5 linked regions of the Homo sapiens genome follow. The protein of the gene in region 1 purifies or fractionates together with the protein of each later gene. This does not show direct contact. Each region holds a gene or a part of one and is shown on either strand. Other genes may lie near its edges.

The links.
Region 2: the proteins of USP30 (region 1) and SS18L1 purify together in Homo sapiens (affinity purification with mass spectrometry; one large-scale study listed by BioGRID and IntAct). This does not show direct contact.
Region 3: the proteins of USP30 (region 1) and QKI purify together in Homo sapiens (affinity purification with mass spectrometry; one large-scale study listed by BioGRID and IntAct). This does not show direct contact.
Region 4: the proteins of USP30 (region 1) and TOMM70 purify together in Homo sapiens (affinity purification with western blotting, with the first as the bait; one study listed by BioGRID). This does not show direct contact.
Region 5: the proteins of USP30 (region 1) and MPND purify together in Homo sapiens (affinity purification with mass spectrometry, with the first as the bait; one large-scale study listed by BioGRID). This does not show direct contact.

Annotation. Positions count from the first base shown.
Region 1 is NC_000012.12:109,073,066-109,076,584, forward strand, and holds part of USP30 (ubiquitin carboxyl-terminal hydrolase 30), read left to right. Parts: intron 1-372; coding exon 373-467; intron 468-3,519. UniProt on the Homo sapiens protein: Deubiquitinating enzyme tethered to the mitochondrial outer membrane that acts as a key inhibitor of mitophagy by counteracting the action of parkin (PRKN): hydrolyzes ubiquitin attached by parkin on target proteins, such as RHOT1/MIRO1 and TOMM20, thereby blocking parkin's ability to drive mitophagy.
Region 2 is NC_000020.11:62,174,760-62,178,278, forward strand, and holds part of SS18L1 (calcium-responsive transactivator), read left to right. Parts: exon of another isoform or gene 1-1,559; intron 1,560-3,519. UniProt on the Homo sapiens protein: Transcriptional activator which is required for calcium-dependent dendritic growth and branching in cortical neurons. Recruits CREB-binding protein (CREBBP) to nuclear bodies.
Region 3 is NC_000006.12:163,561,199-163,564,717, reverse strand, and holds part of QKI (KH domain-containing RNA-binding protein QKI), read right to left. Parts: intron 2,737-3,519; coding exon 2,649-2,736; intron 1,299-2,648; coding exon 999-1,298; coding exon of another isoform or gene 973-998; exon of another isoform or gene 52-972; coding exon of another isoform or gene 8-51; exon of another isoform or gene 1-7. UniProt on the Homo sapiens protein: RNA reader protein, which recognizes and binds specific RNAs, thereby regulating RNA metabolic processes, such as pre-mRNA splicing, circular RNA (circRNA) formation, mRNA export, mRNA stability and/or translation.
Region 4 is NC_000003.12:100,370,082-100,373,600, reverse strand, and holds part of TOMM70 (mitochondrial import receptor subunit TOM70), read left to right. Parts: coding exon 1-63; intron 64-878; coding exon 879-995; intron 996-3,519. UniProt on the Homo sapiens protein: Acts as a receptor of the preprotein translocase complex of the outer mitochondrial membrane (TOM complex). Recognizes and mediates the translocation of mitochondrial preproteins from the cytosol into the mitochondria in a chaperone dependent manner.
Region 5 is NC_000019.10:4,350,047-4,353,565, forward strand, and holds part of MPND (MPN domain-containing protein), read left to right. Parts: intron 1-2,850; coding exon 2,851-2,983; intron 2,984-3,519. UniProt on the Homo sapiens protein: Probable protease. Acts as a sensor of N(6)-methyladenosine methylation on DNA (m6A): recognizes and binds m6A DNA, leading to its degradation. Binds only double strand DNA (dsDNA) in a sequence-independent manner.

The sequences.
Region 1 (3,519 bases):
GCTTATTCTGTTTATTTCAGAAGATTTTATCTCGCTTTATGGAATGTTCACTTGTGGTATCCTTCTTTTGACATCTCAAACATTTTAAGCATATGTTTGTAAAAAGACATTATTCAACACAAATTCCTTTTTAAAATGTGGCTCTACCCATTATACAGAAACCGTATATAAAGATAGATCTGTGTAAATTCTCCTATGAAGGAATGGGATGTCTTTTGGATGGAAGTCAATGAGGAAAGCTATTTCAATGTACTTTTCAAGAATATTTTTTCTTAAGAGGTAGTTTCTACCACATGCTAGAAAGGAAGATGAATGTTGAGCTTGGTGCCAAAGGGCTAAAAGTGACATATCAAAAAACTTTTTGCATTCCAGGGTCACCTCACCCTACATCCAATCACTGGAAGTCTCAACATCCTTTTCATGGAAGACTCACTAGTAATATGGTCTGCAAACACTGTGAACACCAGGTAAATACAATACCAACACTTGATATTTCCGGGAGAGGTTTTCCAAAAGTTAGGATTCTTGAAAGGACCTAGAGAGTGGGCTGACATCGGTCACTGGTGTTAGAGACTACCTGGCCTCTGCACACTAGTGGACTGACTACCCCACTTTGGTCAGTGTCAGCATGTCATTTGAGGTCAGATGGCATCTTCTGCACCAAGGACAACAGACCCACTGTGGATTGGCAGGCTCTTGAGTCCAGTGGTTGAGTCTATGCTCATGGTGGACACAGTAGATTCTAGGGCTGGTTTTTTCCCCTTTACTTTTGAGGTTTTAAAATAATATTTTATTATGGAAAATTTCCAACATCATACAAAAAGAGAGAATTGTACAACTGTCACCCCAATCCATTTTATTTTATTTTATTTTTTCACAGCCATTACTGACTCCGGGATCAGTCAACTTTATAACATTTTCATTGCCCCCTAAAGAAACTCCATACTCATTAGCAACCTCTCCCCATCCTTTCCATCACCCTACCCTTGTCAACCATGAATCTACCTCTGTCTCTATGGATTTGCATATTCTGGATGCTTCATATAAATGGAATCATGTAATGTGTGGCTTTTTGTGTCTGGCTTCTTTCATTTAGCATAATATTTCCACGTTTCTTCCATATTTTGGCATGAATCAGTACTTTGTTCCTTTTATTACCAAATAATATTGCATTACATGGATCTACAACATTTTTATCCATTCATCAGTTGATGGGCATTTGGATTGTTAACACTTTTTGGCCATTATGAATAATGTTGCTGTGAACATTTACATACAAGTTTTTGTGTGGACATATATTTTCACTTCAGTTGGGTATATACCTCAGAGTAGAATTGCTAGCTTATATGGTAACTCTTTTGTTTAACCTTTTAAGGAACTGCCAGACTGTTTTCCAAAGTGGCTATGCCATTTTTCATTCCCACCGGCAGTGTATGAGGGGTTCCAATTTCTTCACAGCCTCACCCACATTTTGATGTCAGCCCACTCTCTAGGTCCTGTCTAACATTGAGGTTCTAGCCATCCTACTGAGTGCAAAGTAGTATCTCACTGTGGCTTTTTCCCCCAGTTTTATTGAGATCTAATCGACAATAAAAATTGTATATATTTAGGGTGTACAAAGTGAAGATTTGATGTATGACTGTGTGTGTGTGTGTGCACGTGCACCTGTGCTCATATGTGGTGAGAACACTCTCTTAGTATATTTCAAGAATACAATACAGTATTATTAACTGTAGTCACCATGCTGTACGTTAACTCTCCAGAACTTATTCGTCTTATAACTGAAGGTTTGCATCTTTGAGCAACATCTCCCCACCTCCCCAGCCCCTGGCAGCCAGCATGTACTCTGCTTCTGTGAGTTTGACTTTTCTAGATTCCATATAGGTATGAGATCAGGTGGTGTTTATCTTTCTATATCTGGCTTATTTCACATAGCAGATGTCCTCCAGGTTCATCCATGTTGTCACAGATGGTAGGACTTCCTTTTTGATGGCTGAATAATATTCCATTATATGTGTATACCACATTTTCTCATTCATCTGTCTGTGGACATTCCATATCTTGGCTATTGTGAATAATGCTACAATGAAGATTGTTTTGCAGATGTATCTTTGAGATACTGATTTCATTTCCTCTGGATATATACCTAGGAGTGGCATTGCTAGTTCATATAATAGTTCTATTCTTAACTTTTTGAGGAACCTTCATACTGTTTTCCATTTACATTCCCACCAACAGTATGCAAGAGTTGCCTTCTCTCCACACCCTCGGCAACACTTGTTACGTGCTGTCTTTTTTTTTCAGACAGAGTCTCGCTCTGCTGCACCCAAACTAGAGTGCAGTGGTGCCATCTTGGCTCACTGCAACCTCCGTCTCTTGGGTTCAAGCAATTCTCCCACCACAGTCTCCCAAGTAGCTGGGATTACAGGCACCCGCCAACACACCCAGCTAATCTTTTGTATTTTTAGTAGAGATCGGGTTTCACCATATTGGCCAGGCTGGTCTTGAACTCCCAACCTCAAGTGATCCGCCTGTCTCGGCCTCCCAAAGTGCTGGGATTAAGGCATGAGCCACTGTGCCTGACCACATGCTGTCATTTTGGTAATAGCCATCCTAACAGGTGTGCGGTGATAGCTCTTTATGGTTTTATTTGCATTTCCCTGATGATTAGTGATATTGAGTGCCTTTTCATATACCCACTGGCCATTTGTATGTCTTTTTTTTGCAAAGTGTCTGTTCAGCTCCTTTGCCCATTTTTTAATCATGTTACTTTTTCTTTTTTTTTTTTTTTTTGCTGTTGGTCCATATGAGTTCCTTATAAACACTCTTTTAGTGTATTTCAAGTATTCAATTTTGGATATTAACCTCTTATCAGATATATGGTTTGCTAATATTTTCTTTCATTCCATATGTTGCCTTTTCATTTTGTTGATTGTTTCATTTGCTGTGTCATTGCGGTTCTGAGTGACATTACCTTGAAGACTAATATGTTGAATGGTCTTTTTAAAAATAAGGTTCATATATTAAAAGATATGTAAGATATGTTAAGGAACTGTAATCTATAAGTTGACTATTCATCTCTTTTTTCCGTGCATTATTTTGATACTATTGTAAGTGGAATTTAAAAAAATTTATTTTCAAATTGTTTGCCACTAGTATATAGACATACAGCTGTTTATATATTGACCTTATATCTTGAGATTTTTGTAAACATTCATTTATTACTTCTAGAAGCTGTAGAAGTTTTGTTATGTATTCCTTAGCATTCTCTGTGTATGCAAACAGTCATGTTGCTTATGAATAGAAATAGTTTTAGTTCTTCCTTTCCAACCCAATCTTTATTCCTTTTTTTTTTTTTTCTTTGCCTTATTATCCTGGCTAAGACTTATGGTACAAAGTTAAATAAGAGTGATGATGGCAGACATCTTTGCTTTGTTTCAAATCTTCTGAAGCAAGTATTTGGTGTTTTATAATTAAGTATGATATTAGCTTTAGGTTTTAGTATACCTCTTTATCATA
Region 2 (3,519 bases), on another chromosome or scaffold:
TCCTTCCAGAACGTTAAGTCTCTGAGCCTGTAAGGTTTTGCAGAATTGCCTCTGTGTATACGCTCACCTCAGTCATCCAGCTGGCTTTTCATACCCTAAGCTCACCGTTAGATCTGCACGCCTGGTTCTCACATTCATTCACTCTGCCAGTGTTTGTCACGTACTGGGTACGCGTCCGGTCTCTGCTGAGTGCTTGGTGTGTGGCCGCGACACGAACCCTGCACTTTTAGAGCTTATGTCTCGCTACAGAGACATAAGGTGGTCCCACAGGGCCAGACTGTGCTGAGGACAGAGCGGGGGGCCCCAAATGGAGCCCGCCTTCCAGATGGGGGCGCAGGCGACCGCATTTGGCCCGTGTGGGCAATTCCAGGACGAAGACACAGCGGGGAGTGGCTGGCAGCCCCAGGCTCAGCCTAGGGAGGGGGAAGCCCTTTCTGCCCAGGAACAGTGAGCAGGGCTTTGAAGGAGCTGAGGAAAGAGCAGCTTGGAAGATGGAAGAGCGGGAGCTCTCGGGACAGTGAGGAGGCCGGTGTGGCGGGAGGTGACAGGGACAGGTGGGCGTAGGGGCCTCCATAAAGCAGACATCGCTTTCCCTCTGAGTGGGATGGGGCCCCTGGAGGAGGACAGGGTCTGTGTGGTGGGAGCACTGCAGGAGCGAGGGCCTCCTAGAGGAGAATGAGCCAGGCAAGGGAAGAGGGCGTGCCAAGGTCCTGAGGCACCAGGAGGTTTGTCCCAGTGAAGGCAGCCTGAAGGAGGCTCGGTGGCTGGAGCACAGGGCATATGAAGGAGAATGGTCTGGGACATTTTTTGGAGCCTCCTTTGAGAGAGTCCTTAGCAGGAAGTGGCTCTGTGTTGGTGACTCTGAGGTGGCTGGAGGTGTTAGGGACACTTTACACTGCCAGTGAAATTTCAAAGCACTACATCGCTCAAGTTTGTTTTTCTCAGGGAATTGGGTAGGTAAGAGGCCAAAGACTGTTTTTTAAATGCTTCTCGTCCTCCTTCTTCAAGAGGGCAAAGGGTCACCAGGTAGATGTAGAGAAGCCTAAAGACCATGTAACACAGTCTCCCTGCCAGGGCACCGTACTCGGCCATGCCTGGGAAGGGCACGCTGATGAGGCATTTACACAGATGTCAGGAGGGCTCTGGTGTGCTCTCAGGACACTGTGAGGCCACTGTAGCCGACGCAGGGGCCGCCTCTCCCCAGTGTGTGCTGGGCGCTGGTCAGCGGGGAGCAGGCCCCAGCTTGGCCCTCCAGGTTTGCACAGGAGTGTCATGCTGGAGTCTGGAAGGACAGCAGTCTGCATCCTGATGTTAAATTAGAATTATATGTGAATGATTCTGATGAGACGCCATACCTCCTTCATACAGTCCTGAAAATAACTTATTTGGATTTTGTGAAATAAGTGAATGTCCTAACTTAATTATAAGACTGAACCAGAGGACATATAACTTTATACCTACCTATGAAAAGACCGTGACCGGTCGTGGTGGCCCATGCCTGTAATCCCAGCACTTTGGGAGGCCAAGGCAGGAGGATCACTAGAGCCCAGGAGTTTGAGACCAGCCAGGGTAACATAGCAAGACCTGTCTCTACAAAAAATAAAGTAGTCAGGCATGGTGGTGCATGCCTGTAATCCCAGCTACTTGGAAGGCTGAGGCACGAGGATCCCTTGAGCCCAGGAGGTCGAGGCTGTAGTGAGTCGTGATTGCACCATTACACTCCAGCCTGGGCTACAGAGAGCGAGACTTTGTCTTAAAAAAAGGAAAAAGAAAGGCCAGGCGTGGGGGCTTACACCTGTAATTCCAGCACTTTGGGAGGCTGAGGCGGGTAGATCACCTGCAGTCAGGAGTTGGAGAGCAGCCTGGCCAACATGGTGAAACCCCATCTCTGCTAAAAATACAAAAATTAGCCGGGTGCCTGTAAGCCCAGCTATTGGGGAAGCTGAGGTGGGAGAATCGCTTGAACCGGGAAGGCAGAGGTGAGTTGAGATCACGCCACTGCACCCCAGCCTGGGCGACAGAGAGACTCCATCTCAAAAAAAAGAAAAAGACACAGAGCAATGGGGAAGATAGAGAATAGAATTTCACATCTGGGGGGAAATGTGTCCATCTAACTGCAAAATATTAAGATAGCCTTTAGTCAGCATCCAGTGTAGCTGGCCGTGGCGCTTTGGCACAGCACTGCCGGCGCTGGGCGTCTCCTAGGGGCCATTGTGCACACTGTGTTATGTTTGCAGCACCCCTGGCCTCCACCACGATGCCAGTAGCACCCCCATTGCCCAGTCTGACAATTTAAAATGACTCCAGACATTGTCAGATGCCCCAGGGGCAAAACTGTCTCCGTTTGAGAACCACTGGGCTACACTTAAACATGTGCTGAGGCGGCCAGGCGCTGTGGCTCACGCCTATAGCACTTTGGAAAGCAGAGGCGGGCGGGAGCAGATAGAGACGGAGGTTGCAGTGAGCTGAGATCGCGCCATTGTATTCCAGCATGGGCAACAAGAGCGAAACTCTGTCTCAAAAAAAAAAAAAAGGTGCTGAGGCATTGGGGCTGCCAGTGGTTTTATAGGGCTCCAGGGCTGCCATGCCTTCAGCTGAGCAGCTCTGGATTTGAGGCTTTCCGTCTTACCCAATGGTGCAGGAGCAGAAAGACATCAGAACAGACTCCCACTAACTAGAATCATCACAGGCAGCTCTGGGAATGAGAATGTGACGTGTTCGGTCAGGCTGGAACAGCTTTCCTCCCTCCCCCACTTCCTCGCTGGGGGCATTCGGGAAATCTGATCATTAACTAGCTGGGGACACATGGAGAACAGGCATGCAGATGATGATCCGTTGTCTTCCCCTGTGGCAGTCTCCCGAGTGGCTTTCACCACAGGTCCGATGCTCCGTTTTGCTGCCCAAGGAATTCTGCCTTGTGGCCTTGTGGGGCACAGGCTCTCTAGTTTCTCTTCTTCATGTTGTTTTTTGTTGTTGTTTTTGAGATGGAGTCTTGCTCTGTTGCCCAGGCTGGAGTGCAGTGGCACGATCTCGCTCACTGCAGCCTCTGCCTCTCGGGTTCTAGCAATTCTCCTGCCTCAGCATCCGGAGTAGCTGGGATTACAAGCACGTACTATCACACCTGGCTAATTTTTGTATTTTTAGTAGAGACAGGGTTTCGCCATGTTGGCCAGGGTGGTCTCGAGCTCCTGACCTCAGGTGATCCTTCCAAAGTGCTGGGACTGTAATCCTACAGGCATGAGCCACTGTGCCTGGCCTTTTTTTTTTTTTTTTTTTTTAAGACAGGGTCTCACTCTGTCGCCCAGGCTGGAGTGCATTGGCAGGAACATGGCTCACCGCAGCCTCAACCTCCGGGGCATGCGCCACAACATGTGGCTTATTCTTTTTTTTTTTTTTTTTTTTTTTGAGACAAGGTCTCACTCTGTCACCCACACTGGAATACAGTGGCATGATCTCGGTTCACTGCAACCTCCACCTCTCAGGCCCAGTGATTCTCCTGCCTCAGCCTCCCAAGTAGCT
Region 3 (3,519 bases), on another chromosome or scaffold:
CAGCAAGTCAATGGGCTGAAATATCAGGCATGACTGGCATTTCAATCCACTCTATAAAAAAAAGGCATCAGTAATGTCTTTTTCGAGCACACCACTTTTTGTTCATGTAAAACCAAGCGTTTATATTATGATTTTAATTTCTGCCTTAAGTGAGATTCTGAATTCAGTGATTTGCTATTTATTTAACTATTCCATACTGTACTACTGAAATTAAGAGTATCTCTCATGTTTAATATGACTAGGACTCCAAAACACAAGAACTGAAAAATCTTAAGAATACAACTACAGTCATGCCTGCATAACAACATTTTGGTCAACAACGGACCACTTATACTATGTGGTCCCATAAGATTATAATGGCTATACCACACAGCCTAGGTGTGTAGTAAACGATATCATCTATGTCTGTGTAAGTACACTCTATGATGTACACCAAATGATGAAACTGCCAGACAAGGCAATTCTTAGACTGTATCCCCGTTGTTAAGCGATGCATGACTGTATTTATCTGATATTTTAAGTGATCGCAAATATTACAAAACACACACAATAATATGAATTTTATAAAGCGCTCAGACTACTTTCACTTAGAAGTTTAAAAATTTTCCAACAATTACACAAACCTGTGAGATAAAATAAATCTCAAATAAAGTTTGAGAAGTGGAGCTGATGGAGGTGACGGGCCAATGGGGTGGGACCTAAAACTCAGAATGACCTCAGTAATGTCAAATGTAAAAGTATTTGTTGAAATGTACACAACAGATTTACCCAACCAAACTGAACCTCAGTTACCAAAGTGGATCTGAATAAATTTAAGGTGCAATTATTTCAAAGGGGAACCCTTATGAGAGGCTGAAATAAAACAAAATTTAGTTTTCGGTCTTCCCTAATGCAAACTTGTCTTGCCTCTCTAAAACTGATAAAATCATTTCAAAATCTGAGGGAGCAAAAATATTTATAAAGAGAATGTTGTTAACCCCATGGGGAGAAGAACTTACCTAATACACCACTAGGTTCAATAGGATACTCAAGGATTGATGTAGCTGGTGCCAATGTGTAGGGGTACTCATAGGGTGTATAGATTAAACCAGCTTCGGGCCCTGGAGGAACTATTGCAGCAGTTGGGTGAGGAGTTCCGTTTGGCATGACAGCGGTCTGTATTTGTCTGATCAAAGGCATTATGGTAGGGCCAGCTGGCGTAGGAGTACGCAGGGCAGCTGGTGGGAGAACCGGCGCAGGCCCAGTAATGATCCTTGGAGCAGCCTGGGCTGTTGCTGCAAGAGAAAAGGCAAGGGCTGCTACAGTAAGCAAAGAAATTTAGAAAGAAGTATAGAGACAGCAGTATAAAATACGGAAAAATGAGAAGGGAGTAGGAAAAAGAAAGGAAAAGCAGGAAAGAAGAAAAATAAAAGGAAATCATTAGTACATGCGCTGATCACACAAAAATGCAAAAGCACACCAATCAAATGCAAACAGCTTTCCCTTTCCCAATGTGATTAAGAATGTGCAAAAATTAAAAAGCCATTGTAAAAAAATGAATGACACCATTAAATAGGTTATATTTAGTTCATACATTTGATATATCTAAGATTTCATAAGACTAAAGTACATGCAGAAGCACAATGAAACACTTGCATTAACAGATGTTAAAAAATAATTTGTAACCGGAGTCCACAGAAACTCAGTTTTGGTATATTTCTAAAGTACAGCTTTAGTTTCAAAGTAAAGAAAGAATAATTTTTATTGCATTTAGTCAAGTAACCACTAGGTATATATGTACATTTCCTGCATCTTTAGGAACCAACGTCACAGAAAATCTTAAAAAGCCCTACTTCTAAATTCCTATTAATGATATACTCACATTTTCATGAGTAAATTAATGTCAACAATTTGTAAAGTAACTACTTCTAAACCCACTAGAGGTTGCCTACATCTTCTAAATCTGGCTAGAACTTAAAAATTCTATGTGTTTTAAATAATCAGTAATTTAAACATGGTATGTTCATATAAATGACATGTATGAATCTTAAATTGTTTCAAAATATAAATTTCACATTATTTCATTTTAAACATAAAAAAGCTATCCTCTTACGGCTTATAAAAACATGCATAGATACGCATAAAAACAAAAATAGGACGGAAAAAGAGTTATCACCCACTGATCTCTGTGAACTCACATATGAAATCAACAGGGAAAAATACTAGAGGGAAAACATGCAAGCAAAGTGAAAGGACAGAACTCAACAGAGGGTCATTTCAGTCAGATACACTTCAAATTCACTTTTTCAAAATAAGCTTTCAATATGTTGTCTTTTGCATAAATTTAACAAGATAAGCTGCAAGCCCTACATCTGTAGTTAACCAAACAGAAAATTTCTTAAACACTTGAATTTAGAGATTGTGATTTTGTTAAAATAATGTAAGTTTATCAACCTAAAACTTCAACATGCTGACATAAAATAAAATCAAGAGTGTCCTCAATTCATGAAAGCATTAAAAATAGGACTGTCAGCCCCATATCAAGTGACAGAACAGTTATTTCAACTGTTCACTTTGTATGAACTATTATTGTGTTGCCAAAAGGAAAAAAGTCTGTAGACAAAACAACGCAGACAGCAGTAACCCTGGGCCTCAGAGCTCATTCTTACGTGATTTAATGTTGGCATCTCTGTAGGTGCCATTCAGAATCGCAAGCTCCATCAGCTGCATCTTCTTCAGGCTGTCTTCTCCTTCTGCCTATACATGGAAAACACATGAGATGAAAGCATTTGAGACTGTCCACAAATATAATAGCTATATCTACACACAAGCCTTAAAGTAAGTATCATGTGACTACAGTCACCTGTTTTAATAAGGGGAAAAAAAGATCAAGAACCAAAAGGTGCTAACATAATGGAGCCTGCTTTCTCTGTTTTCTCAGTAAAGGCATGTTGATATACAGCATATTGTATTTGTAAATTTTTTGTCAGTTACACCGATTTATTAAAGTTCCCCTAAAAAGCTTTACTTTTAAATAGAAATGAATGAAAATGTGAGATAAGACTAAACATAACATATTCTCTTCAGCATCTATCATTTTAAAATTACTTTAATTAATTTTATTGTTTTTAGATACAGGGTCTTGCTCTGTTACCCAGGCTGGAGTGCTGTGGCATGATCCTAGCTCACAGCCACCTTGAATTCCTAGGTTCGAGCCATCCTCCTACCTCAGCCTCCGAAGTAGCTGCGACTAGAGGCACGCGCCACCATGCCTGGCTAATTTTTTTTATTTTTTGTAGAGACAAGGTCTCGTTTTGTAGCCCAGGCTGGTCTCAAACTCCTGGCTTCAAGTGATCCTCCTGCTTCAGCCTCCCAAAGTGCTAAGTTTACAAGTGTGAGCCACTGCACCCAGCCAGCAACTATCATTTTGCTGAATATTCCAAAACTCAAATGTGTTCGTTAAACACACACATACACACACGCGCGTGCACATGTGCACACAAATAATTTTAAACATACAAGATTTGATTACAGAATTTA
Region 4 (3,519 bases), on another chromosome or scaffold:
GATGAATGTATTAGGTTAAGACCTGAGTCTGCTCTGGCACAAGCACAGAAATGTTTTGCATTGGTAGGTACTACTTTCTTTTGTATTTTCCTAAACATCACTTTTATTTTCCAGCGTCAACAAAAATGAGTATCTCATTGTCTACAAAGTCGTCTTTTTCTTTCTTTCCCAAAGGATAACTACTGAGGAAAAAAGGTGCTGATTGATACCTAGCTCTTGTATTTCTCTGGACATTTGTTTGGGTTCATCTTGATAGATGTTTGTCCCTGATTTTATACTTCCCTAAACAGAACTGGTCTCCCTGCTTCATCATAAATCAATATAAAGAGCAAAAACATTTTGAGGAAACACTCTGTAAACATGACACCATGTAACTTGCTCTCTCACCCCTGCTTCATAGAACTGTTTCTTAATATTCAGAAACACAAAGCTCAAAAGGTTGTTTTTTTTTTTTTTTTAAGTAAAAATTTTTCTAGTAAAATAAGATACTTCCAGTTAGCTGTATGGCTGGAGTCGTAAAAGAATTTTCAGTTTAAAGGAAGAAATTATGTCACAAATATATATTATAAATGAAAATGACAAAAATTTTACTAGATTTAAAATTCATTTATTGCAAAGTTCACTTCTTACAAATTAGTATGCCCTCTTCTACAGTATTGAACATCTTGAAATTGTATAGTGGCCATGGAGTCCTAGTTGTACATAACCTTTGGCTCTCTGCTGCTGAGATACCTACTTGGAACCCTTTTGGATGCTGCAGATTATGTTAGCAAATCACCTGTTTTTTTGGAAATATTTATGTAATTTTGTGTGTTTATGTTAACATTCCATGAGTTTTTGAGTTCTTGATTTGACAGGCCTGTTTTGATTTTTTATAGTACCGCCAGGCATATACGGGAAACAACTCTTCACAAATCCAAGCAGCTATGAAAGGTTTTGAAGAGGTCATAAAGAAATTTCCAAGGTGTGCCGAAGGCTATGCACTATACGCCCAGGTAAATGTTTTTTCAGGTTTTTTAAAAATAACTGCATACATATGCCAAATCTCAGTATGGAAATCAGAAAACAGTGCTATCATGGTTGCAGCTTCTTTGGAAGCAGGTGGCTTTGTTCCTGATTGATTCTCATGGCCCCTGGTTGGTCCCGAATCACCTCAGAAGAGGCTCCTTTGTTACACAATTTGGAAATCATGGCCCTAAACTCAATATGGGGAAGCTTAAGGCGAGAATTTCCCTCCTGTCTTCATTTGGATTGGTTTTGCAAAAAGTAATTACCTTAGGAAAATTTACCGTATGCAATTGGTGGAGAAAATATCCACGGAAAGGCTTTTCTTTCTATCTGGTCACTGCCTTTTTATATGGCTAGGTTGTTGTAACGGTTTATTTTAATTTATCTTTGCTTTATCTAAAATTCCTGAAACTCTCTTGGTTTAGGATTGAAGCTATGGAAAGCAGGATTTAAATCTGAATTTTTTTATTGTAGTCTGAAATTCTTGAAAACTTCTTAGTTTTAAATCATCCATTTAAATGAAAATGATTAGCTTCTTGTAGTGACGGTCATACATTTTCCCCTCAAATAAAAGATCTCTGAATGACTCAGTTTTCTTTCTTAAAGCTGAAAATTGGTTTTGGTGTCTACATAAACTAGCCATCTCAATACTCTATATCAGGGGTACAGCTGCTTTGTGGCCTCTTAGGAATGGGGCTGCACAGCAGGTGAGCCTTGGGCAAGCATCACCACCTGAGCTCCACCTCCTGTCACTGTCAAATCTGCAGCAGCATTAGATTCTCATGCCTGATGATCTGAGGTGGAACAGTTTCATCCCAAAACCATCCCTCCTCCTCCTACCCCCATCCATGCAAAAATTGTCTTCCACAAAACCAATCCGTGGTGCCAAAAGTGCTGGGAAGGTGTTGGGGACTGCTGCTCTATGTAATTTATTTTTCTTTTTTTTTCTCTTTTTAATTACAAAAGACATGTTGGGTTTTTCCCCACAGCACAGAAATAGGAAACGATAACAAATTACTATCCCCTGGCTGGGTGTGGTGGCTCCTGCCTGCAATCCCAGCACTTTGGGAGGCTGAGGCAGGCGGATCACTTGAGCCAGGAGTTTTGAGACTAGCCTGGCCAGCATGGAGAAACCCCATCTCTACTAAAAATACAAAAATTAGCTGGGTGTGGTTTGGCGCACACCTGTTATCCCAGCAACTCGGGAGGCTGAGGTAGGAGAATCGCTTGAACCCAGGAGGCGGAGGTTGCAGTGAGCTGAGATCACACTACCACACTCCAGCCTGGGCAAGAGTGAGACTCCATTTCCAAAAAAAAAAAAAAAAAAAAAAAATACCATCGCTGGTTGACCCCTCTCCTTAAACCATTCTTAAGGATGCTTATTTTGTTTTTAATTTCCTTCATGGTATCTGTAGGCAGGTTATAAGAACAATTTCACAAGGATTTTAAGGGTTTATTGAGGGTGGAACTATGAGAAAATTGATTTGTGTTGGATCTGTTCTTTAGAGGTAGGTCTTATATATAACTACATTAAAGTGTACATTTTAATCCTATGAATGGGTACACTTGAGTTTATGCCTTATAATTAGTAACAAACCAGGAAATGACAGCAACATCCTCATCATTGTCATGGAATTCAGAAGGGCTTTTTTGGTGCAGATTTCTCTAAGCATCTAGAAGAGCAAAGGCCACCGAATAGGAACCACTACTGGGGAACAACTCCTCTGCAGAACTTTCCCAATAGCATATTTCCCTATTACCATTCTGCCTTCAAGATAGGTTTGGTTTGTATGAGCTGTCTTCTCATCAGCATTAGCATTATTACAGTCAGTTTGCACTCAAATTTCTTTTCTTTGGTCTGTTTTCTAATTTTAGCTTCACTATATAGTATATGTAACTTTATATATGCATACAGTACGTGTGTGTGTATGTGTATGTGTATATATATATACTTAGTGTAACTTTTTTGGCCCTCAAAGCTTTGGCGTAGATGCTGGCCAACTCGCAAAGTTACAGCTTGAGCATAGTCTGATATCCACAGAACTGTGCCTTCCATTTCAGCCGTGGGATTTGTCTTAAAAAGTTGATTATAGCTGCTGCTTTTGTTTTCAAAATAAGTATTTATTACATTATTGTTAACTATGACAAACAATTGGGGAAAATCCTAAATGTTAACAGAAAATTGAATTATGTTTGCAGAATTGTGGTACACTCACTTAATGGTATATTATGCAGCCATTAAAAGTTACAAATACATTAAAGTTACAAAGCAAGATACAGCACTGCCTATTATTAAAGGGAGAATTGCATACAAAATGAACTCAACCATGTGAAAGAAAACAAATAGGGAAGTAAATAGAGATAGAAAAATATATCAGGAAGGCATCCATGCTCACAATGATGGAAGCTATAAAAATATTTCTACTTTCTATATCTTTCTGATTTTTATTATAAAGAAGATGTGCTGGCTACATTTCTTTGATATTTTTAAGAGCGATTTTTAAAATATTT
Region 5 (3,519 bases), on another chromosome or scaffold:
CTGCCTTTGGGTGGGAGTTGTGGGGGAAGAAGGTGGTTGGGGGGGCTTCACTGAGAAGGTGACATTTGAACGGAGAACTGAAGGTGGGGAGGGAGGGAGGGTGCCATGAGGACTTCTGAGAAACAGCCTCTGCAAAGGCCCTGGGGCACGACCGTGCCTGGTGTGTTGGAGGAACAGCGAGGAGCCTGTGTGGCTGGAGCCGAGTGAGTAAGGGAGAGAGAAGGAGGTGGGGAGGATGGGAAGGGGACAGGGCAGGTCATGCAGGGCTCTGTAGGTTATGGGGAGAACTTGGGCTTTGACCGGGAGGAAGGTGGGAGCCATGGAGTGTTGCAGGCAGAGGAAGGACAGGATCTGACTGAGGTGCTCACAGGCGTTCTCTGGTGGCTGCTGTGGGGACTAGACTGTCGGGGGTTAGGGTGGGATCCAGGGACCAGGGCAGAGGTGAGTGAGCTGGTCCAGGTGAGGGATGATGGAGTGGCCCAGGCCGACCATGGAGCAGGGAAGAAGTGGGCAGGTTCCAGGTATTTTTGGAAGTGTATCCGCCAGATTTGCTGATAGATCAGATGCTGGAGTCCTGAGCAAGTGGGTGGATCGAGCTGCCAAAATTGGGGGATGTGGGAAGGGCAGATCTGGGGGTTCAGTGGGGCCCAGCATGGCTGTGTTGAGTGTGACCCTGTGAGTCCCCCACATGGAGACATAGAGAGGCAGCTGGGCCCTGAGTCTGGAGCCGGGCGAGGCTTGGGCTGGAGACAGGACTGTGGGCAGTGTCAGGTGTAGACAGGATTTGGAGCCCTGAGAGGGGATGAGGCCACCTGGGAGGGGTGTGGAGGGAGGAGGCCTGAAAACCCAGCCTGGGGCCAGCAACAGCGAGAGGGGAGGTGAGAGGGAGCCAGGCGAGCGTGGGATCCGGGGGTTGTGTGAGGACCGTGTCCTGGTAGGTAGGAGGCTGTGCTGGGTCAGATGCTGCCGAGAAGGTGACGAGGACAGAAAGTGAGATGTGACCCAGAGAGGTCACCTCCACAAGGGCAGTTTAGGACAGAACTGGAGGAGAGGTTATTTTTAATTTGTATTTTTGTAGACAGAGTCTCGCTCCGTCACCCAGGCTGTAGTACAATGGTGTGATCTCAGTTCACTGCAGTCTCCGCCTCCCGGGTTCAAGTGATCCTCCTGCCTCAGCCTCCTGAGTAGCTGGGATTGCAGGTGTTCGCCACCATGCCTGGCTAATTTTTGTATTTTTAGTAGAGATGGGGTTTCACCATGTTGGCCAGGCTGGTCTCGAACTCCTGACCTCAAGTGGTCCACCGCCTCAGCCTCCCAAAGTGCTGGGATTGCAGGCGTGGGCCACTGTGCCCGACTGGGAGGAAAGGTTACTGAAAGACGTGAAAGCCACCTATGTATGGTGCTGGCTCGCTCAATGAACGGAGCATCTAGGTGTATGCTAAATGCTTTGTGCGTATGATTTCATTTCACCCTGATGCCATCCCCGTGGAGTTGGAGGTCATTGTGCCCTTTTACAGATAAGAATAGACTTGGCGGCCGGGCACGGTGGCTCACGCCTTTAATCCCAGCACTTTGGGTGGCCGAGATGGGCAAATCACAAGGTCAGACGATCGAGACCATCCTGGCTAACACGGTGAAACCCCATCTCTACTAAAAATACAAAAAATTAGCTGGGCGTGGTGGCACATGCCTATAATCCCAGCTACTCGGGAGGCTGAGGCAGGAAAATCACTTGAACCCGGGAGGTGGAGGTTGTAGTGAGCCGAGATCATGCCACTGCACTCCAGCCTCGGCGACAGAGTGAGACTCTGTCTCAAAAAAAAAAAAAAAAAAAGAATAGAGTTGGCTGGGCACGGTGGCTCACACCTGTAATGCCAACACTTTGGGAGGCTGAGGCAGGTGGGTCACTTGAGGTCAGGAGTTTGAGACCAGCCTGGCCAACATGGCAAAACCTCATCTATACTAAAAAGACAAAAATTAGCCAGGCATGGTGGTGGGCAACTGTACTCCCAGCTACTCAGGAGGCTGAGGCAAGAGAATGGCTTGAACCCGGAAGGCAGAGGTTGCAGTGAGCCAAGATCGTGCCACTGCGCTCCAGCCTGGGTGACAGAGTGAGACCGTGTCTCAAAGAAAAAAAAAAAGATAAAAGAATAGATAGAGTTCAGAGAGTTTAAACCCATTTATGCCTGAGGTTGCAATTCTTTGAATTTTTGCAATCAGACCTTGGCGATGACTTTGAGCAGTAGGATATAAATAGCTCCCATATGCTTAGCGTTCCAATAATGGAACCCTAGGCATAAATGGCAATGGTGCTCACCAAAGGTTGCGCAGGGCTTGTATTATAAAATGCGAGGTGAGCCGGGTGCGGTGGCTTACGCCTGTAATCCCAGCACTTTGGGAGGCCGAGGTGGGTGGATCACCTGAGGTCGGGAGTTTGAGACCAGCCTGACCAACATGGAGAAATCCCGTCTCTACTAAGAATACAAAATTAGCTGGATGTGGTGGTGCATGCCTGTAACCCCAGCTACTCAGGAGGCTGAGGCAGGAGAGTCACTTGAACCCAGGAGGCAGAAGTTGCAGTGAGCCGAAATCACACCACTGCACTCCAGACTGGGCGACAGAGAGAGACTCCGTCTCAAAAATAAATAAATAAAAAATAAATTACAAATAAATAAAAAAAAATGTGAGGTCTTAGCTTAAGGCCTTCTCTGCTCCCTCCCTCCCTCTAGTGGTCATGTGGGGCAATGGCACTTACGGCTTAGGCCAAAGGGCTGGGGTGGGATTTAGCAGGGAGCGGGGGGGCACCCAGCTGAGGGTCCCACCGCTGTCCCTGACCCCTAACCCCTGCAGAGCCCAGCCAGTGAAGGGGAGGAGGAGGAGTTGCTGATGGAAGAGGAGGAGGAGGACGTTCTGGCAGGGGTCTCAGCAGAGGACAAGAGTCGGAGACCACTGGGGAAGAGCCCTTCAGAGCCTGCCCACCCGGGTGAGAGGCGTGGGGAGGGGAGGCAGGACAGGGGCGGATACAGCTCGGGTTGGGGAGGAGACTGGGGAGAGGTTGGGCCTTGATCTTCTCCTAGGGCCCCCAAGATGGAGACATGGAGAGTCAGCTGGGCCCTAAGTCTGGAGCCGGACGAGGCCTGGGCTGAAGACAGTCCCACTGCCCAGTTTTACTCACTGCCTTGACTTCTTAAGCTCAAATGCTGGATTTTATTTTATTTTATATATTTATTTATTTTTTGGTGATGGAGTCTCCCTCTGTCGCCCAGGCTGGAATGCAGTGGCTCAATCTCGGCTCACTGCAACCTCTGCCTCCCGGGTTCAAGCGATTCTCCTGCCTCAGCCTCCCAAATAGCTGGGACTATAGGCGCCAGCCGCCACGCCTGGCTAACTTTTGTATTTTTAGTAGAGATGGAGTTTCACAATGTTGTCCAGGCTGGTCTTGAACTCCTGACCTCAGGTGATCCACCTGCCTCGGCCTCCCAAAGTGTTGGGATTACAGGCGTGAGCCACTGTACCTGT